2 separate regions of the Homo sapiens genome follow, and region 1 is linked to region 2. The links come from fine-mapping of genetic effects on plasma protein levels. A gene starts in region 2. The other region holds a variant in brackets. All regions are shown on one strand. Distances are from middle to middle.

Region 1 (5,324 bases), 110 kb before region 2:
AGGAGAGGACTGACTGGGCCTGGATCCCACAAGGTGGTTGGAGGTCCCGTTAGGAGCCAGGGCCAGGGAGGCAGCCCCCTAAAGGCCAGCGTGGATGCCCGCCCACCCACCCCTGCCAAGGGCTGCTTGGGAGTATTGCAGGCCAGACCAGAGTCTCAGCCACAGGTGGAGACAGCTTTACAGATGAGACGAACCACTTCTCTTGTGGATTTTCCACGGTGACGAGTCAGCTGTATCACTATCATATCCCACAGATGCAGTCTGCACACCCCCCAAGCTCAGGGCATAAAAAGGTGTCTTCATGGAGCAGTGCCCACCTCTCCACAGCCTGTAAAGCTGCACCAACAACTCAATGACATTCCAGCAACTTCGAAGAGAAAGTCCCGTCTCCCCAGGTCTGCCTTCCTGCCTTCCCCAATTCAGATCCCACAGCTCACGGAATGGCTCTGTGTCAAACTCTGAAGGTTGGCTCACCCAGGGCAGACAGACAGAGGGGCCTGCCCAGGAGCCCGACTCCAGCTTGCCAACTCTCCTGTCACCTAGAATCAAAGCCACCGAGCGGAGAAGCCCCCGGTCCAGCTGCCTGCGTCACTTTACCTTCTTTGAAGACAGCAGCAGGGTCTGGACTGGCTCAAAGTCCTGGAAGAGCTGGGTCTCCTCGATGATGTGAACAGCGTGCTCGAGGCTGATGGCTTTGTGCAGAGCTCCCCGGTCTGCAGGGCCAAAGCTACAGGTCAGTGACACTAACCCAGACACAGAAACCAAGGACAGTGACCACAGCGGCAAACTTCACACTCTTCACTCTCAAGTCATTCCCTCCACAGATACTTAGAAAACAATGATGATTTCGCATTAGAAACAAAAAAAGGAAAAGGCTTTGGCAAAACAGACAACTGGAAACCCAAGTGTTATGGGTTATTCCAGTTTTTTTCCAAGGAAAATAAACTGTTCCATGGTTGACCCCAAGAATCCTCACCAACAGTCGACATTACACTTGAGGCTAAGTGCCACATGAGGGGGCTCCCATGCTCCACCAGCCCTCGGGGTGTCACTGGTAAGTGCCCTAGGCAGGCGGTGAGGACAGGGGGCATGTGAGGTTGGCTGGGAGGCTCCAAGGGCAGGCCACAATGCGCTGCCAGCCACCGTGGCTCCTGGCCCCTGTCCCTGTTCCAGAAGTGCTTATTTCAGAGTCCACATGCCAGGGCACATCTAAAACCTGGCTCCTCGGCCAGGAAGCAGGGACGTGGTCCTCTGCCAGCAGTCAGGAAACGCCAGGCTGACGCCTCCTCCCAGGTGGCTCACACCTGCCCCCTGCGTGGGCACTGCCCCAACTCCTCGGCGGCCAGTACTCCTCTGCCCCAGCCCAGCCCAGCCACAGGCCAGGACTTGCATTTTTATTTTTAACAAGTACCTCCAGTAGCCTGGTGGTCCCAGATCTGAAAGCCACCTGGTGTGGTGACTTCTCAGAAATCTTCTTACGCTCCCACAAACCTCCCAGGTCACCTCGAGGGAGGCAATGGAACTACTCACGAAAGAATAATTGGATTTCCCAGTTTTCCTACCAGAGGACACAGATGTGCTGTCACTGTCAAGCCTGCCAAGCCCTCGGAACCCACCTGTGCTGACAAACATGACATCATAGACAGTCCCATCCAGGGCCTGGGTCCGGTCCACCACGATCTGGGTGTAGTTCACATCTTTCTTGATTAACCTGGGCCTGTTGTCTATTGGGGTTACCGAGTCATCCATCAAAGGGTGGTCTTTAACGAACTGCAGCGTCTTGTCTGGCAAATTCAAGGAGCTGGTGTAGTTGGCGGCCCGTGCCTCGCTGTCGATGCACTGCAGGGAGAAAATCCCCGCTGTTAACGTGCTCGTGTCCCACCACGCAACGGGTGCTTCCACACAAGCAGCCAACGCAGGGGGGGCTGCAAAACCTGGAAACCACACAATGCATGCCTTGAAATGAGGGTAGCAGTGAATAACTTTACTATGAGGAAAGGTGGCCTCTCCCCAGCCAGCAGAGGACACAGTTATAAAACACATCTGCAAGACAGAATTGCATTCACGATACATACTCAGGGAAGGAATTTTTATCTATTTGTAAGTGAAAAACACTTATTGAGCTTTTGAAATTAAAAAACAGAACACTGATTTGCAGCTTTCTCATGAAAAGAATGCTAAACATGGCTAAAACCAGGACAATTTAAAATAGCATAAGAGCCTGAGGGATTCTTTTTTCCTGTTCTAGCTCCCTGATGTGTGTAAACCAAAATCTGTGACCATGAGTGAACACATTTTACGAAGCTATGCATAGAAGGAGCCATGATGGTGTCAGGGACAGCTGCCCTTGGGAGGGAGCTGGTGCTGCAGTGAACTCTGAGGGCCAGGACACCCCATGTAGGTCACAGCCCCACAGAGGGCTGTGCACATGCCTGTCACACCCATTTCCCCATGTGAGGGAAGGAATCGGCCTGGAAATTCCCAATTTCTACATAAAGTTCACTATATTTAGGAGGAAAAAATGTGACTCCTGTTGACTAGTGGACAGTGCAGAGGCCTTTGCCAAGGAATCATGTGTTTCTCTGTAAGAAACTGAAAATGAAACAGACCTAATTGTTATGCAATGTTAATTGTGCAAAACAGCTGCCCCAGCCTTCTTGTTTGTGCAATAGTGTAGCAATGGCTGTTACGTAACATGCAAAAGGGAAGAAGGATGAGCTGTGCTCATCGGCCGTCCCTGTCCCAATGCAGAGAGCCTTGGCGTGGCCAGGTACCCAGCCCATGAGCAGGCCCCAGTGCCTGTACTGGATTCCATGCCCTGGGCCTTGAAGGGAAAGCACGGCCCGCCCCCAGTGCCCCAGCTCACCGCTCCAGGCCGCGGCTTGGGTACCGGGCCATTATAGCGCACCCACTTGGTGTGGGACTGCTCCACTGTGGTGCTCTGCATGTACTTCCCGTGGGAGAAGACCTCCTCGGCTGTGGACAGGTTGTAGG[C/T]GCACACTGCCGACAGCCCCACGTTGTTCCTGGGGAGGGGAAAGAGGTGACGGGACCACCTGGCGGCATCAAGGGAGCAAGGAGGGGGACTCCACCCAGGGCACTTACAGCTGTGGGGTGAAGAGTGCATAGAACACAGGCACCTTCAGGCCCGGGGACCTGAGCACGAAGACATCCCGCAGCACATTGAAGACCAAGCCGCTGTCTGGCCGGGAGCAGATGAGTCGGGCTTTCAGGAAGGAGGTCCATTTCTTCTGCAAGGTCCTCAGGCCGCCCTGGTCCCCCTAAAACCCCAACAAGAAGACGTGGTGGGCCGAGAGTGGATCCCCTGTGAGCAAGCACTAAGGTCAGAGGTGCACCCCTCCATGGCCCAGCACAGCGCGGCTGTGCCTGACTGAAACAAAGCTCGGGCAACAGGAGACAGATGCCGCAATTATGTGAGTGGCCCGCAGCACCACGTCCAGGTTCCAGCTTGGATCCCAGAACGCTCCTGGGTTAACACACAAAACAAAACGGACAAAAGCCCTCTCACTGAAAGCTCATTTGATCGTCCATGCCTGCCTGTGCCCAGCATTCAGTCCTGCAACCGCAGAGGTGCTGCCGTGCTCACACACTTCCAACTGCCAAGGCCCCTGGCATTGTGTGACTTTCCTGACATAGGGCCCATCAATGAACATGCTCTGGGTGGGGCAAGTGGCGGCAGCCTCCTTCCAGGGGACAGCCACCGGCCCTGCAGCCTGTCTTGGGCAAATGTGTGAACCTTCCTCCCTTTAAAGGAATAGATCCTTCACTTCCTTTCTACCCAAAGTATCTGCTAAAGTGCTTTGAACCTAAGTTCTTTATAAACGCTTTTCAGGGATCCGATGACCAAGACACAATTATAAACTACACATGACTGTGTGTGGTCTGGAGAGAAATACTGAAACCACAAAACCTGAGTGCAGAAGAATATGAAATAGAAGCAGCCTTACTTATTTTGGACACAGGGAAAATGTTCCCCCTTCATCTCTGCTGTGTGATTACAGGAGCCCAAATTCTCTTTTTGATAAAAGGACTTCATTTTCCTCCTTGATGTTTTAGCAAAGAATAATTTCTAGCACATTTTTCGTCAGGGGTCTCATGTGGCTTTCAGGTCACGGGCAGCAGGTGAAGGGTTCATGTGTGCCTGCGTGGTAGGCAGGAGCTGTGGGGCCTAAGCTCAAACCACCCTAGTCCAGGAGTTCAAACAAGTATGGGGAAAAAAAAGGGATCAGAGGGGATGACAGCAGTGTGCCTAAGACTTGTAGAAACTTGTCGGGGGTGGAGGTGGCTGCTCTGTGCATCGCTGAATCTGCTCACTGATCCTGCTGCAAACCCTCAGTGCTGGGTAATAAGTCAAGGTCAAGGCAAGTCTGATCCTTGGCTTCCCGATGGCAGGGGAGGGCTCGAGTCCCCTGGCCAGTGCTGCTCTGACAGCATTCTGAGCACTGTGCACGCCTGCCAGGAGCTCTGGCCCTGCAGCACCCTCCCCATCTCAAGGGGCACTGGCTTGCCCCCAACACTGATACTGTTGATAGGATGGTTTCCTGGTCTGCAAGACAGGAGCATGGCAGCCACGGCTGCGGGGCTGCGGGGCAGCTGGAGGATCTGGTCAGTGAGCCCTGGCTACGGAAGGCCTGGGCAGGGAGCAAAGCACCAGGTGGATACTCAGGTGTGCACATCACCCAACCTTCTTCCTTATGCAAGGGGCTGTTAAGGGAACGGTGTCAAAGGCACCCACTTTTGTGCGCCATAGGCATGAAAGGAACCCTGCTTCTCTGATGTCCTGATGGTCATGACTACATGAGAAAGGGCCACGCAAGAACTATCTACCAATTTCCATGAGAGACGAATGGCTACCTGCTCCGAGATGAGCTCCTGGCCAGGGACATGGCGGCTGTGTTTCATGTGGTTTCCCCCAGCTCCCCTGAGGCCTGACAATCCACCTCCTGGAAACTGCCACTGAGCAACCTTGAGATTTCCTGTAATCAAGCCCATAGGCCATTCTCTTGTGCTGAGCACTGTGCCTACAGTGTGTCATTTTAAAGGCACCCTCCCCTTTTAATGTACTTAAAGATTTGTGTTTTGACAAACTTCTGTATTGGTTCTCTCTTCTTAATCTTAAGCTGTCGGTTAATGTTTCACTCTTAGGTAGATTAAGAGCCAAATGGTGAAATTCCAACAGACTCTGGTGAATACATTCCACAAAGCCTTGCTTTTTATAAGCTAGAGGTTTGAAGAGGGTGCATTAAAAGAAAGAACCTCCTGAGAAGAGGAGGCTAATGGGTCACACATGGGGGCCAGCACTCCCT
Region 2 (5,363 bases):
TTTCATCCCCATGGGTCCTAGCTCCAACCCTGGAGCTCTGGCTCCAGGGGTCAGGAGGAGAATCTGCAACCACCCTCCTGGACCCGCCCATCCCTCCCTCCCCAACAGAAATGGAACCAAGAGAGGCAGAAGCCTGAACAGCCTCAATGCAGAAGCACAGAAGATAGAGAAAACCATTGATCTTTGCAATGCATTATTGATTTTGCTGTTGTGCTGTCAGCAGCGGACGTTCCCTCCCTCCTCAGTCAAAGCTGGCCATTAGCGTGCACTCCCAAGCTTTGGCCTAGACACACCCGCTTGGTGTGGGGAAAGCGGCTCTAGGTAACATCTGCCTCCAGCGGTCCACATGGAGAGGACTGTCCACAAGTGGATGATGTCACCAAGGACATCTCCCTGGCCCCAGACCCACTGGATATCAAATGCAACATGGTCGCTGGTCTTGCACTCTAAACCTCAGCCCAGGACCCCAGGCACTCAGGGGGGTCTGTGCAAGGCTGCATTTTCAACAGACTCTGGGTGTGCTTCTCAGGAGGTGGGCCCCCTCCCATGGAGTCCCTCCCTTGTGCTGTGCTGCAAGACCTTGGGCTGGCATGGCAGCTGGGGCTCTGCATCCCCACGGTGGCCTTTTGCCTGTCTGCACTCTGAAATACAGCCACTGAGTTCCACCGTCTACCAACTCCTAAGCGGCCCACCCTCCTGGGACCCCAGGGCTGCTCCTGGCACCAGTGATGTGTTTCTATTTCTTTGTTTGACTCGCTGAGTGTACCACGTACACTCTTCTCAGTCTGAAGGTCTGGCCTTATGGGAGGGCAGTCTTTGCTCACAGAAACAGGCCAGTGCATCCCTCATCTTCCCACCCCAGCCTCCCTGGTGGGTATGCTGAGCCCGCCTGCTTTCTTCTTCTGGCTGACGACTACCAAGACATGATATACGCAGACACCAACTGTCAAAATGACAATCAGGGCATTATCATCTCTACCAGAATCCTGCCCCTGCACTGGCCAGAGCTGCCTGTTTCTGGGACACAGTAAACATTCCCAAATAACCTCGCCTGGGCAGCCAGCAGGCAGGCCCCAGGCCTAGGACACATATGAGGTGACAGGCCACTGGTGTCACGTCACCCCCAGGAAAGGAAACTTCCGTTCCGTGGCGCCTGGTGGATTTGAAAAGACTCAGAACAGCAGGGTGAGATGCTTGGCCCCAGGCCCCACGTCCAGCTTGGCCTTCGGGGGCCTGGCCACCCACGAGCCTGGGATGTGCTCAACACAGAGTGAGGTTTTCAAAACAAAAGCAAAGCAACTTCATGTGGAAAACCTTCCGGAAAGCAGGACCCAGCCCTCGACACCAGGCCTCATTTGACGCAAACTGCCCACTTACAGACTCCCATTCACCCACTCTCCCACCTACCCCCCAAAATACTAAGCCAGAAAATAGAGGACAACCACGAGTTCAACTCTCCTTTACACGTTTTTACTGGCATAACCCCAGTAGAGCCAGCCCCTTGCAGCTCACTAGGCGGCTGCAACAGGTGCAGCCCAAGCTAAGGCTTGTGGTTCTCCTGGGCTGTTCTAGAATAATGCAACCAAAACCCGAAAGGAAACCGAGGCCTGCAGCACTCACTGCCAAGGCGGCGACCTGACCACTGCGGCCCAACCTGCCCCACCTGTCTGAGTGCGCGGCGCCGGGTCCAGTGCACAGGGTCCGCGGCCTCCGCGACCAAAATAGAAGCCCGCGGGGGCCCGGCCAGAGCCCGGCTGGCCGGAGTGGGGCCTGACCTGGCGGGGCCGGACTGGGCGGGCCGGGGCGCGACGGGGCCTGGCCGAGCGCACCGCCCCCTCCCTGGCCCGGGTATGCAGCGCGCCCCCGCTCCCCCGCGCCCAGAGGAGCCACCTGCGCGCAGGGACTGGGGAGGCAACCGGGAAGGGGAGAAGGCCGGGGAGGGATAGCAGAGAGGTCCAGGGGGTCGGAGGGGTCCGGGTAGGTGTCTCTGGGAGGCGTCCCAGGAGGGGCCCCGGGGGGATCCAGGAAGGAGTCCAGGGGTCCGGGGATCCCAGAAGGAGGCTCCTGCAGGGGTTCGGGGAGGGCCCCGAGGGTCCGGTGAGGAGCCTAGGGGTGTGGAGTGGGGGCTCCGCGGAGGGTCCAGGCCGCCCCCAGCGCACCTGCCCGGCCCCGCGCGCCCTCCCTCCCGCGCCAGCCCGGCCGCTTACCTGCAGCGCGCGTCCTGCCCGCGGCGGCTCCCGGCCGGGCGAGTTCGGGCGCCAGGAATGGCGGCGGCGGCGGCGGCGGCAGCGGCGGGAGGCGGCCGGGCCGGGGAGGGGGTGGCGGGGAGGCCCGGCGGCGGCAGCGGCGGCTGGGATGCTGCGGCGCGCGAGAGCGCTGAGGCCGGCGCGGGGACGGAGTGCGCGGGGCGGGCGCGCAGGCCCCTCCTCCGCTCCCCCTCCCTTCCCGCCTCCTCCCCTTTCCCTTCCCCTTCCTCTCCCCCTTCTTCTCTTCCCTCCTATGGCCCCGCCCCTTTCTTCCTCCTTCCTCCTCCCTCCTCCTCGCCCCTGCTCACCTCCCTCCTTTCCCTCCCCCAACCTTTCTTTTCCTCCCTTCTCTTTTTCCTCCTCTTTCTTCACCTTCGCAACACTCTTCCACCTCTCTCCCCTTCTCCCCACTTTTGCTCCCCACTCCTTCCTCCTCACCTCCCATCTCTCTTGCCTCCCCGCCAGGCCCAGAGGGTTGTCCCTCAGCCCTGGGTTGGTCTCTGCTGAGTCAAGCACCCGTTCCCAGGACCAAGAGGTGCCCTGTCACCCTCTTCCTCACCAGCTCTCAATAGACAAGCTTGCCCCTTCTGGGGTCCTGGATGAACCCCACCCTTTCCAGGCCTCCCCCAAATCCCCCAGTTTTTTTTCACCCCCAGACCCTGGGCCAGCTCTTCTGAGAACCTGACCTGCAGTGTGCGTGAGGCACGTGGCACCCAGAACACTTGGCTGCTGACTTTGGGCAAGAATATTTCACACCAGGCTGCTCCCATTCCCCAGGGGAGGGGCTGGCACCACCTGGAGTCTTGGTTTCCCTGAACCCCCGTGCTAGCCTTTTGCCAAACGTTCATCATTTTCCACTCTGTATGGCAAATGGTCCTCCTGTGAGGCTGCTGGTGAGACTTGTTTGTGACTAGCCCATGGGTTTGGGGATCTGGGGGCCCTCAGAGATGGTGCTGCTCCATCCAGACCTCTTCCCTCTGCCCCCAGGAGAGGTGACAGGGCTCGCACAGTGACTGGCCAGGCTGGGAGGCCTATTGAGGAACACAGTCCTGAGAAGGGGACACAGTTTCTTACGGAACCAGCTAAGATTTCCCCTAAATGTGAGGAGTTGGGGAGCCCCTCTCCAGGCCAGGTGATACCTCCCTGGACTACAGACTGCTGTTGAGGGGCAGGGGCCCTGAGGCTGTTTTCCTGCTGAGCACTGGCTCTGAGAGCCAGAGTTTACAAATGAAGCCAGTCCCAGGCCCAACAGTCACAGAGTTAAAGGCCCAACAGTCTCAGAGTTCCGTTCTAGGGCCTCCTGTGGTTTCTGTGGTTCAGTGCCGGAGCTCTGAGAATAGGGCTTCGGCCCAGCAAAGGCTAAGATGGCAAAGCTGGTGTCAAGCAGGGTGGGGTGGAGCACGCACCCCCTCCTCCCTCTACGGCATGGCAGCCACCACCCTCTTGCTGAAGAATCCAGACCTGGAATCTGATAGACTCCCTTGACTCACAGCTCTGCAGTTTCCAAATAACCTCAGGCCTCAGCAAACCTCTGTACCCTGCAACATGAGGACAGTGTGGTCGTCCTGGAGGGTTTGGGGAGCACGGAGAGAGAATGGCAGGTAAAGCCCACTGCACCGTGTGCTCGGGTTCAGTGCTGGTGACTATTACAGGAAAAACTAGAGAAGTCTTTTCCAAGCTCTTTTCCAATTGTAGGGGTCCATGAATCCATGTTCCACATCCCATTTGGATTGAAACATAATGGGAACGGATTAGGACAGAACTGGTTTAACAGCATTCTATACCCAAGGAGGGATGCACGCTTAGGATCTACACATGCAAGCATTGCACTGATTGGGGTGGGGTGGGGGGACTCTCTTTTATTCCTCACTAGTCAGACACATCTAGAATACCATGCCCTTGCTTGGTGTCTAAGGCAGCCAGCAGTATCCCGTGGGAGGGGAGTTGACCCACCGGGAGTCTTCAGCCTAGAAAATCAATGTGTGGAGCACAAGACAGAAGAACCCCAATATGTGCAAAACTGTCCCGGGAAGAAGGATTACTCTGTGGTGTTATGAAGGGCAGAATGAGGACAGATGGGTGGAAATTAGATGAGAAAGTGGATTCCTGCCTATCGTGGGCGCTTTCTGACAGACCTCACTGTGGAAGAGCCGGCTGCCCCTACAGGAGCGTGCCCTTCACAGCCAGCGTCTAGACAGGCCTGGGGCCACCTTGGGAACACACTGCAGGGAGGGGACCAGCAGCAGAGGGGTATGCTTCTCAACAACTGCTGAATTCTCTCCTGGCTTTTAGACCCACATGCTCAGAATCTAATAGAGGGCAGCCCAGGGCAAAGAAGAGACTTTGCATGGCTGTCCTGGGGCCCACACTTCTGGCATCATGACCTTCCAGAATACTGTCCTCTCTAGCCTGTTTCCTAATGCATACAGAAGAACATGAGAGAATTCAGTAAAAACTCCAAAAAGCTTTCCGCAATGCCCAGGCTGCGAACACAAGGGCTTCTTTGCACCGTGCTTATATAAAATTGCCCCCAAACATGTTTATTGCATTCATGAAGGAGACAGGACTCTTAGTTGTAAGTGATAGAACTTCAGCCCATACTATTGGCTCACTTGCATCCAAAGATGCCCCAAGTACCATTAGAACCGGGACTTGGATGCCATTATTAGGTCTTCCTCTTCCCTCCTCTCTGACCTTCTTCCCTGTTCCCTTCTCTCAGCATGATTGCCTATGTCTCCCAAAGTGACCAAGCTTGCCTTTTTATTCTTGTTTCACACTCTGTCGTGGGACATTTCAAACATAGATATAAAAGTAGCAGGCTGGGTGCAGTGGCTCACGCCTGTAATCCCAACACTTTGGGAGGCTGAGGCAGGCGGATCACCTGAGGTCAGGAGTTCGAGACCAGCCTTGCCAACATGGTGAAACCCCGTCTCTACTAAAAATACAAAAATTAGGTGGGCATGGTGGCACAAACCTGTAATCCCAGCTACTCAGGAGGCTGAGGCAGGAGAATCACTTGAACCCGGGAGGCGGAGGTTGCAGTGAGCCAAGATCATATACCACTGCACTCCAGCTTGGGCGACAGAGCAAAACTCAGTCTCAAAAAATAAAAATAAA

Direction of the effects. Alleles are on the strand shown, and positions count from the first base shown. The strength of an association depends on the size of the effect and on how common the allele is.
In carriers of allele C in region 1, the plasma level of the protein whose gene starts at base 2,402 in region 2 tends to be higher than with T alone (moderate association).

The links. PIP is the posterior inclusion probability: the model's chance that the variant is causal. Protein levels are from antibody-based Olink assays in UK Biobank. Linkage for the fine-mapping came from a reference panel and not from the study's own genotypes, which makes the PIPs less certain.
Region 1: its variant is fine-mapped to the plasma level of the SEMA4D protein (UK Biobank, PIP above 0.99). The variant lies in the coding sequence of SEMA4D. If it changes the protein, the assay may bind it differently, which can mimic a change of level.

The regions. Positions count from the first base shown.
Region 1 is chr9:89,385,770-89,391,093 of GRCh38, forward strand. SEMA4D (semaphorin 4D) reads right to left here. Exons shown (of 16, transcript NM_001371194.2): 10 at 3,103-3,278; 11 at 2,867-3,023; 12 at 1,617-1,839; 13 at 598-713. Among named protein-coding and RNA genes, the nearest start is that of SECISBP2, 70 kb to the left of the region's middle. RefSeq lists an enhancer at 3,646-3,815. The variant C/T (reference allele first, on the strand shown) is at 2,995.
Region 2 is chr9:89,495,712-89,501,074 of GRCh38, forward strand. SEMA4D (semaphorin 4D) reads right to left here and starts at 2,402. Exons shown (of 16, transcript NM_001371194.2): 1 at 2,208-2,402. RefSeq lists silencers at 1,722-1,871, 2,302-2,491.